Linked DNA regions of Homo sapiens: region 1 is linked to region 2. Evidence: fine-mapped expression QTL. A gene starts in region 2. The other region holds a variant in brackets. All regions are shown on one strand. Distances are between the middles of the regions. Region 1 has its middle 20 kb from the start of NT5DC4. Region 2 holds the start of IL1B (interleukin 1 beta).

Region 1 (4,399 bases), 140 kb after region 2:
AGAGGCCAAGCATGGTGGCTCACACCTGCAATCCCAACACTTTGGGAGGCCAAGGCTGGAGGATTGCTTGAGCCCAGGAGTTTGAAACCAGCCTGAGCAACATAGGGAAATCACATATCTAAAACAATTTTTTAAATTAACCAGGCATGGTGACATATGCCTGTAGTCCCAGCTACTTGGGACACTGAGGTGAGAGGATTGCTTGAGCCCAGCAGGTCAAGGCTGCAGTGAGCAATGACTGTGCCTCTGCATTCCAGCCTGGGCAACAGAGTGAGACCCTGTCTAAAAGAAAAAAAAACCTGCACACCGAAGTTTACAGCACATTTAGTTATAATTGCCAAAACTTAGAGGCAACTAGGATATCCTACAATAGGTGAATGGATAAATAAACTGTGGTACATCAAGACAATGGAATATTACTGCTAAAAAGAAATTAGCTATCAAGCCATGGAAAGACGGGGAGGAAACTTCAATGCATATTACTATGTGAAACAAGCCAGCCGAAAAAGATACATACAGTATGATTCCAACTACATGACATTCTCAAAAGGCAAAACTATGGAGACAGCAGAAAAGTCAGTGGTTACCAAGGGTTGGGGGAAGGGAGGGGACAAACAGGCAGAGCACAGAGGATTTTGAGGACAGGAAACTATTCTGCATGATCCTATAATGGTGGATACATGTAATTATACATTTGTCAAAACCCATGGAATGTACAGCACCAAGAGCAAAGTCTAATGTAAACTATGAACTCTGGGTGACGAGGATGAGTCAGTGCAGGTGCATCGATTTTTAATATTTTGGTGGGGGATGTCCACAGTGTGGGAGGTTGTGCATGGGTGGGGAGAGGTGGATGGGAACTCTGCACCTTCTGCTCAGTTTTGCTGTGAAACTAAAACTGCTTTAAAAGATAAAGTTTATTAATTTTAAAACAGCAATGATTGATGGGGCACGGTGGCTCAGGCCTGCAATCCCAGCATTTTCGCTTTGTGCTAAGACCTACAAATTATGTAGCTGGCCCAGTCTGTAACAAGATCCATATAAGAATGCTAAAATTAGTGGGTAGAAGTGAGGTAGGAGGCAGGACTTGACTCCAGATGAGATTGAAGACTGGCTGAAACAGAGAAGAGGCACCAAAAATATCTTTCCATAAGACTCACCCACCAGTGCCATGACAGTTTACCATTGCCATGGCAACATCTGGAAGTTATGACTCCTTTTCTAGAAATTTCTGAATAACCCATCACTTAATTTGTATATAAAATACAGGCCAGTCATGGTGGCACATGCCTGTAATCCCAGCACTTTGGGAGGCTGAGGCGGGTGGATCACTTGAGGTCAGGAGTTCAAGACCAGCCTGGCCAACATGGTGAAATCCCATCTCTTCTAAAAACATAAAAAATTAGCCGGGCGTGGTGGCACATGCCTGTAGTCCCAGCTACTCAGGAGGCTGAGGCAAGAGAATCGCTTGAACCAGGGAGGCAGAGATCGCTCCACCGCACTCCAGCCTGGGCGACAGAGTGAGACTCTGTCAAAAAATAAAATAATAATGATAATAAATAAAGTACGTATAAGTATAACCGCAGAACTGCCCCTGAGCTGCTGCTCTGGGCACATTGCCTATGGGTAGCCGTGCTCCAGAAGAAGCAGTTCCTCTGCTGCTGCCCTTCACTACCGCATCTATAAAAGTTGCTGTCTCACACCACTGGCTCACTCTTGAATTCTTTCCTGAGCAAAGCCAAAAACCCCCTCTGGCTAATCTCCAATTTGGAGGCTCACTTGCCCTGCATCAGAAGCTTAAGAAAAATCAGGATATTTCAGTAGCTTCAAAGTACCTCCCCCAAAATACTTGTTAATTACAAGGGGGAAAATAGAAACTTTACAGTGGAGTAACCAGCTGGACACTGTCTTAGCCAAGCAATCAGAGTTAATATCATGTATCCTGACATGGTACACTGGTAGAAAAGCACATTACTTCTGCATTATTCTCCCCCCAAATCCATAACCTTCATATAACCATGAGAAAACATTGAATGGACTTATATTGAGGAAGATTCTACAAAATGCCCAACCATTACTGTTAAAAACTGTCCACGTCATGAAAAGCAAGAAAAGACTGAGAAACTGTGACAGATGGGAGATTCAGAGGATATCATTACTAAATCAAAACAGGATCCTAGATTGGATGCTGGACAGAAAAAGGACATTAGGTGGAATACTAGGGAAACCCAACTGAAATCTATGTATTAATTAACTCCACTGAGTCAATGTTACCTTTCTGACTGAAAGTCATTGTACCATAATTCTGGAGGACAGTAGGGGAAGCTGAAAGAAGGATTTAAGGGAACTCTCTGTACTATCTTTGTAACTCTTTGGGTCATAAATTATTTCAAAATTAAAAAAAAAAATTTAAGCAATCATAATTCAGAAGGCAGTGATGAAATACACCATAAGCAAAACCAAAAGCATGTGACACTGTGGGAAGAGGAACTTACAACTCGTAACACAGACAAGAGTGAATCTCCCTAATACATAAAGAGCTTTGAGAAAAACATCAATAACC[A/C]AATAAGAGAAAAATGAACAAACAATTCAAAGAAAAGGAAAACAACTGGCTCTTAAATGTATAAGATCATCAAAATCTCTCATAAAATAACTGCAAATTAACACTACAGATAATTTTCACCTATCACATTGGCAAAAATCCAACTAGTTGATAATATTCTCTGTTGGTGAGTCTGTGGAGAAAGAGGAACTTTCAAACATTATTCGTGGGAATGTAAATGGATGCAACCACTTCTGGAAGGCAATCTGACAGCATCTATCAAAATTAAGATAAATCAGCCAGGTGTGGTGGCTCATGCCTATAATTCCAGCACTCTGGGAGGCAGAGGCGGGAGGATCTTTTGAGCTCAAGAGTTTGAGACCAGCCCAGGCAACAGAGCAATACCCCATCTCTGCCAAAAATGTTTAAAATTAGTTGGCTGTGATGTAGTCCTAACTACTTGAGAAGCTGAGGTGGGAGGATTGCTTGGGCCCAGGAGTTTGAGGCCATAGTGAGCCACGATGGTGCCACCGCACTCCAGCCTGGGCAACACAGCAAGATACTGACTCTACAAAAAAAAAAAAAAAAAAAAAAGATCAATCCTTTCTTTGACCCATTCCACTTTTACACTTCAGATTGATTTGTACAAATCCAAAATGTCCACATATATAAGGCTGCTCATGGTAACACTGCTTATAACAGTAAAATAAGTAGCATATATCCATCAATAGAAGGCTGGTTAAATAAAGTTAAGGCCCCACAGTAATGCAATACTTTATACACATACGACTTTGAAAAGTGAGGTTACCAGGGACTGGGGGGAGAGGGAAACAGGGAAATGCTGGTCAAAAAGTACAAAGCTTCAGCTATTCAAGATGAACAAGTCCTAGAGATCTGCTGTACAGCATGGCACATATAATTAACAATACTGTATTGTATACTTAAAATGGTGTTAAGAGGACAGAGCTCATATTAAATGTCATTATCACACCCACAAAAAAAGAGGAAGAGAGAAAACTTTTAGATTTGATGGTTATGTTTATGGCTTTTTTATGGTGACAGTTTCATGGGTATATATTTATTTTCAACTCATCAAGATGTACAAACTGAATATGTACAGCTTTTTGGCATGTCAATCATACCTCAATTAAAAAAAAAAGAAGAATGAGGAAGCTTTCTATCTACTAGTAAGGAAAGACCTCCAAGATTTACCAACAACTGTGGGGGAAAAGTTTGCAGAACAAATAGTATCTACATTCTGCATGAAAAAAAAAAAGAAGGGAGTAACAACAACAACAAAAATAACCCCATTAAAAAGTAGGCAAGAGATATGAACAAACACTTCTCCAAAGAAGACATACACACGGAGCCAACAAACATATGAAAAAAATGCTCCACCCACTGATCATCAGAAAAATGGGAATCGAATCCATAATGAGATACCGTCTCACACCAGTCAGAATGGCTATTATTACAAAGTCAAAAAATTAAAAAAAAACCAGCTGATGAGGCTGTGGAGAAAATAAAAGGTTTAGACACTGTTAGTGGGAATGTAAATTAGTTTAATCACTGTGGAAAGTAATTTTGAGATTTCTCAAAGATCTTAAAGCTGAGCTTACCATTCAACCCAGCAGTCCCATTACTGGGTATATACCCAAAGGAAAACAATAGTTCTACCAAAAGACTCATGTACTTGTATGTTCATCAAAGTGCTATTCACAGTAGCAAAATCATGGATTGGTGCTCATCCATGGATTAGATAAAGAAAATGTGGTACCTCTACAGTATGGAATACTAAGCAGCCATAAAAAAGAGTGAAACACATCCTTTACAGCAACATGGATACAGTTGGAGAAC
Region 2 (4,347 bases):
GAAAGCATCAGGGGCTCATGCAACCTGGATACTAGTGCTGCTTCAACCACACTGTGCTATTGGATGAGTCACTTCCACCCTCCTAGCCTTGATTTCTTCGTCTGCTGTTCACATTCAAATAGCTATTCATGTCTTCATCTCTGTGGTCCCACCATATCCCACCAGACAATCATTAGGGCTCCTCTTAGCTGGCAGATTCTGAGGTCCTGGATGCTACAATTGGAAGATGGAGAAGTAGAAGCTCAAGGTTTCTGACCTGTATCCCAAGTCCCAGAAGCAGAATGGACTAACTCAGAGCTGATGCTCGGGTCCCTTGCATATCTCCCTTCCTGTCACTGGCTTTGATCCTCCTTCGTTCAGCTTGTAATCACATCAACAGACCAAAGACATCTCTGTGTTCTGTCAGGAGAGTTCACAGAGCCACCAACCCTCCAGACCCTGCTGGTTGCCGCATAAAGACTCTGAGGAAGGGTTTGAGGCTGCTGTGATCATGCAATGAATGCATGATTGTACCACTGCACTCCAGCCTGGGGGATAAAGGTAGATCCTGTCTAGGAGAGAGAGAGAGAGAAAGAGAAAGAGAGAGAGAAGGGAGGGAGAGACAAAGAAAAAGAGAGAGAGGGAGGGAGAAAGAAAGAGAGAAAGAAAAGAGAAAAGAAAGAAAAAGAAAGAAAGAGAGAGAGGGAGGGAGGGAGAGAGAAAGAAAGAAAGAAAGAGAAAGAGAGAAAGAGAGAAAGAGAAAGAAAGGAAGAAAGAAAGAAAGAAAGAAAGAAAGAAAGAAAGAAAGAAAGAAAAGAAAAGAAAGAAAGAGAGAGAGAAAGAAAAAGAAAGAGGAAGGAAGGAAGGAAGGAAGAAAGACAGGCTCTGAGGAAGGTGGCAGTTCCTACAACGGGAGAACCAGTGGTTAATTTGCAAAGTGGATCCTGTGGAGGCAAAACAGAGGAGTCCCCTAGGCCACCCAGACAGGGCTTTTAGCTATCTGCAGGACCAGACACCAAATTTCAGGAGGGCTCAGTGTTAGGAATGGATTATGGCTTATCAAATTCACAGGAAACTAACATGTTGAACAGCTTTTAGATTTCCTGTGGAAAATATAACTTACTAAAGATGGAGTTCTTGTGACTGACTCCTGATATCAAGATACTGGGAGCCAAATTAAAAATCAGAAGGCTGCTTGGAGAGCAAGTCCATGAAATGCTCTTTTTCCCACAGTAGAACCTATTTCCCTCGTGTCTCAAATACTTGCACAGAGGCTCACTCCCTTGGATAATGCAGAGCGAGCACGATACCTGGCACATACTAATTTGAATAAAAATGCTGTCAAATTCCCATTCACCCATTCAAGCAGCAAACTCTACCACCTGAATGTACATGCCAGGCACTGTGCTAGACTTGGCTCAAAAAGATTTCAGTTTCCTGGAGGAACCAGGAGGAGCAAGGTTTCAACTCAGTGCTATAAGAAGTGTTACAGGCTGGACACGGTGGCTCACGCCTGTAATCCCAACACTTTGGGAGGCCGAGGCGGGCAGATCACAAGGTCAGGAGATCGAGACCATCCTGGCTAACATGGTGAAACCCTGTCTCTACTAAAAATACAAAAAATTAGCCGGGCGTGGCGGCAGGTGCCTGTAGTCCCAGCTGCTGGGGAGGCTGAGGCAGGAGAATGGTGTGAACCCGGGAGGCGGAACTTGCAGGGGGCCGAGATCGTGCCACTGCACTCCAGCCTGGGCGACAGAGTGAGACTCTGTCTCAAAAAAAAAAAAAAAGTGTTATGATGCAGACCTGTCAAAGAGGCAAAGGAGGGTGTTCCTACACTCCAGGCACTGTTCATAACCTGGACTCTCATTCATTCTACAAATGGAGGGCTCCCCTGGGCAGTACCCTGGAGCAGGCACTTTGCTGGTGTCTCGGTTAAAGAGAAACTGATAACTCTTGGTTGGTATTACCAAGAGATAGAGTCTCAGATGGATATTCTTACAGAAACAATATTCCACTTTTCAGAGTTCACCAAAAAATCATTTTAGGCAGAGCTCATCTGGCATTGATCTGGTTCATCCATGAGATTGGCTAGGGTAACAGCACCTGGTCTTGCAGGGTTGTGTGAGCTTATCTCCAGGGTTGCCCCAACTCCGTCAGGAGCCTGAACCCTGCATACCGTATGTTCTCTGCCCCAGCCAAGAAAGGTCAATTTTCTCCTCAGAGGCTCCTGCAATTGACAGAGAGCTCCTGAGGCAGAGAACAGCACCCAAGGTAGAGACCCACACCCTCAATACAGACAGGGAGGGCTATTGGCCCTTCATTGTACCCATTTATCCATCTGTAAGTGGGAAGATTCCTAAACTTAAGTACAAAGAAGTGAATGAAGAAAAGTATGTGCATGTATAAATCTGTGTGTCTTCCACTTTGTCCCACATATACTAAATTTAAACATTCTTCTAACGTGGGAAAATCCAGTATTTTAATGTGGACATCAACTGCACAACGATTGTCAGGAAAACAATGCATATTTGCATGGTGATACATTTGCAAAATGTGTCATAGTTTGCTACTCCTTGCCCTTCCATGAACCAGAGAATTATCTCAGTTTATTAGTCCCCTCCCCTAAGAAGCTTCCACCAATACTCTTTTCCCCTTTCCTTTAACTTGATTGTGAAATCAGGTATTCAACAGAGAAATTTCTCAGCCTCCTACTTCTGCTTTTGAAAGCCATAAAAACAGCGAGGGAGAAACTGGCAGATACCAAACCTCTTCGAGGCACAAGGCACAACAGGCTGCTCTGGGATTCTCTTCAGCCAATCTTCATTGCTCAAGTATGACTTTAATCTTCCTTACAACTAGGTGCTAAGGGAGTCTCTCTGTCTCTCTGCCTCTTTGTGTGTATGCATATTCTCTCTCTCTCTCTCTTTCTTTCTCTGTCTCTCCCTCTCCTTCCCTCTCTGCCTCCCTCTCTCAGCTTTTTGCAAAAATGCCAGGTGTAATATAATGCTTATGACTCGGGAAATATTCTGGGAATGGATACTGCTTATCTAACAGCTGACACCCTAAAGGTTAGTGTCAAAGCCTCTGCTCCAGCTCTCCTAGCCAATACATTGCTAGTTGGGGTTTGGTTTAGCAAATGCTTTTCTCTAGACCCAAAGGACTTCTCTTTCACACATTCATTCATTTACTCAGAGATCATTTCTTTGCATGACTGCCATGCACTGGATGCTGAGAGAAATCACACATGAACGTAGCCGTCATGGGGAAGTCACTCATTTTCTCCTTTTTACACAGGTGTCTGAAGCAGCCATGGCAGAAGTACCTGAGCTCGCCAGTGAAATGATGGCTTATTACAGGTCAGTGGAGACGCTGAGACCAGTAACATGAGCAGGTCTCCTCTTTCAAGAGTAGAGTGTTATCTGTGCTTGGAGACCAGATTTTTCCCCTAAATTGCCTCTTTCAGTGGCAAACAGGGTGCCAAGTAAATCTGATTTAAAGACTACTTTCCCATTACAAGTCCCTCCAGCCTTGGGACCTGGAGGCTATCCAGATGTGTTGTTGCAAGGGCTTCCTGCAGAGGCAAATGGGGAGAAAAGACTCCAAGCCCACAATACAAGGAATCCCTTTGCAAAGTGTGGCTTGGAGGGAGAGGGAGAGCTCAGATTTTAGCTGACTCTGCTGGGCTAGAGGTTAGGCCTCAAGATCCAACAGGGAGCACCCAGGGTGCCCACCTGCCAGGCCTAGAATCTGCCTTCTGGACTGTTCTGCGCATATCACTGTGAAACTTGCCAGGTGTTTCAGGCAGCTTTGAGAGGCAGGCTGTTTGCAGTTTCTTATGAACAGTCAAGTCTTGTACACAGGGAAGGAAAAATAAACCTGTTTAGAAGACATAATTGAGACATGTCCCTGTTTTTATTACAGTGGCAATGAGGATGACTTGTTCTTTGAAGCTGATGGCCCTAAACAGATGAAGGTAAGACTATGGGTTTAACTCCCAACCCAAGGAAGGGCTCTAACACAGGGAAAGCTCAAAGAAGGGAGTTCTGGGCCACTTTGATGCCATGGTATTTTGTTTTAGAAAGACTTTAACCTCTTCCAGTGAGACACAGGCTGCACCACTTGCTGACCTGGCCACTTGGTCATCATATCACCACAGTCACTCACTAACGTTGGTGGTGGTGGCCACACTTGGTGGTGACAGGGGAGGAGTAGTGATAATGTTTCCCATTTCATAGTAGGAAGACAACCAAGTCTTCAACATAAATTTGATTATCCTTTTAAGAGATGGATTCAGCCTATGCCAATCACTTGAGTTAAACTCTGAAACCAAGAGATGATCTTGAGAACTAACATATGTCTACCCCTTTT

The links. PIP is the estimated chance that this variant, and not a neighbour inherited with it, causes the effect. A credible set is the group of variants that fine-mapping cannot tell apart.
Region 1: its variant is the best candidate, but not a certain one, in a credible set for the expression of IL1B in whole blood (INTERVAL, PIP 0.68).

What each region holds. Positions count from the first base shown.
Region 1 is chr2:112,698,503-112,702,901 of GRCh38, reverse strand. No RefSeq gene overlaps it. Among named protein-coding and RNA genes, the nearest start is that of NT5DC4, 20 kb to the left of the region's middle. The variant A/C (reference allele first, on the strand shown) is at 2,564.
Region 2 is chr2:112,835,171-112,839,517 of GRCh38, reverse strand. It overlaps IL1B (interleukin 1 beta), which reads left to right and starts at 2,739. Exons shown (of 7, transcript NM_000576.3): 1 at 2,739-2,810; 2 at 3,274-3,335; 3 at 3,901-3,952. The coding sequence starts at 3,289.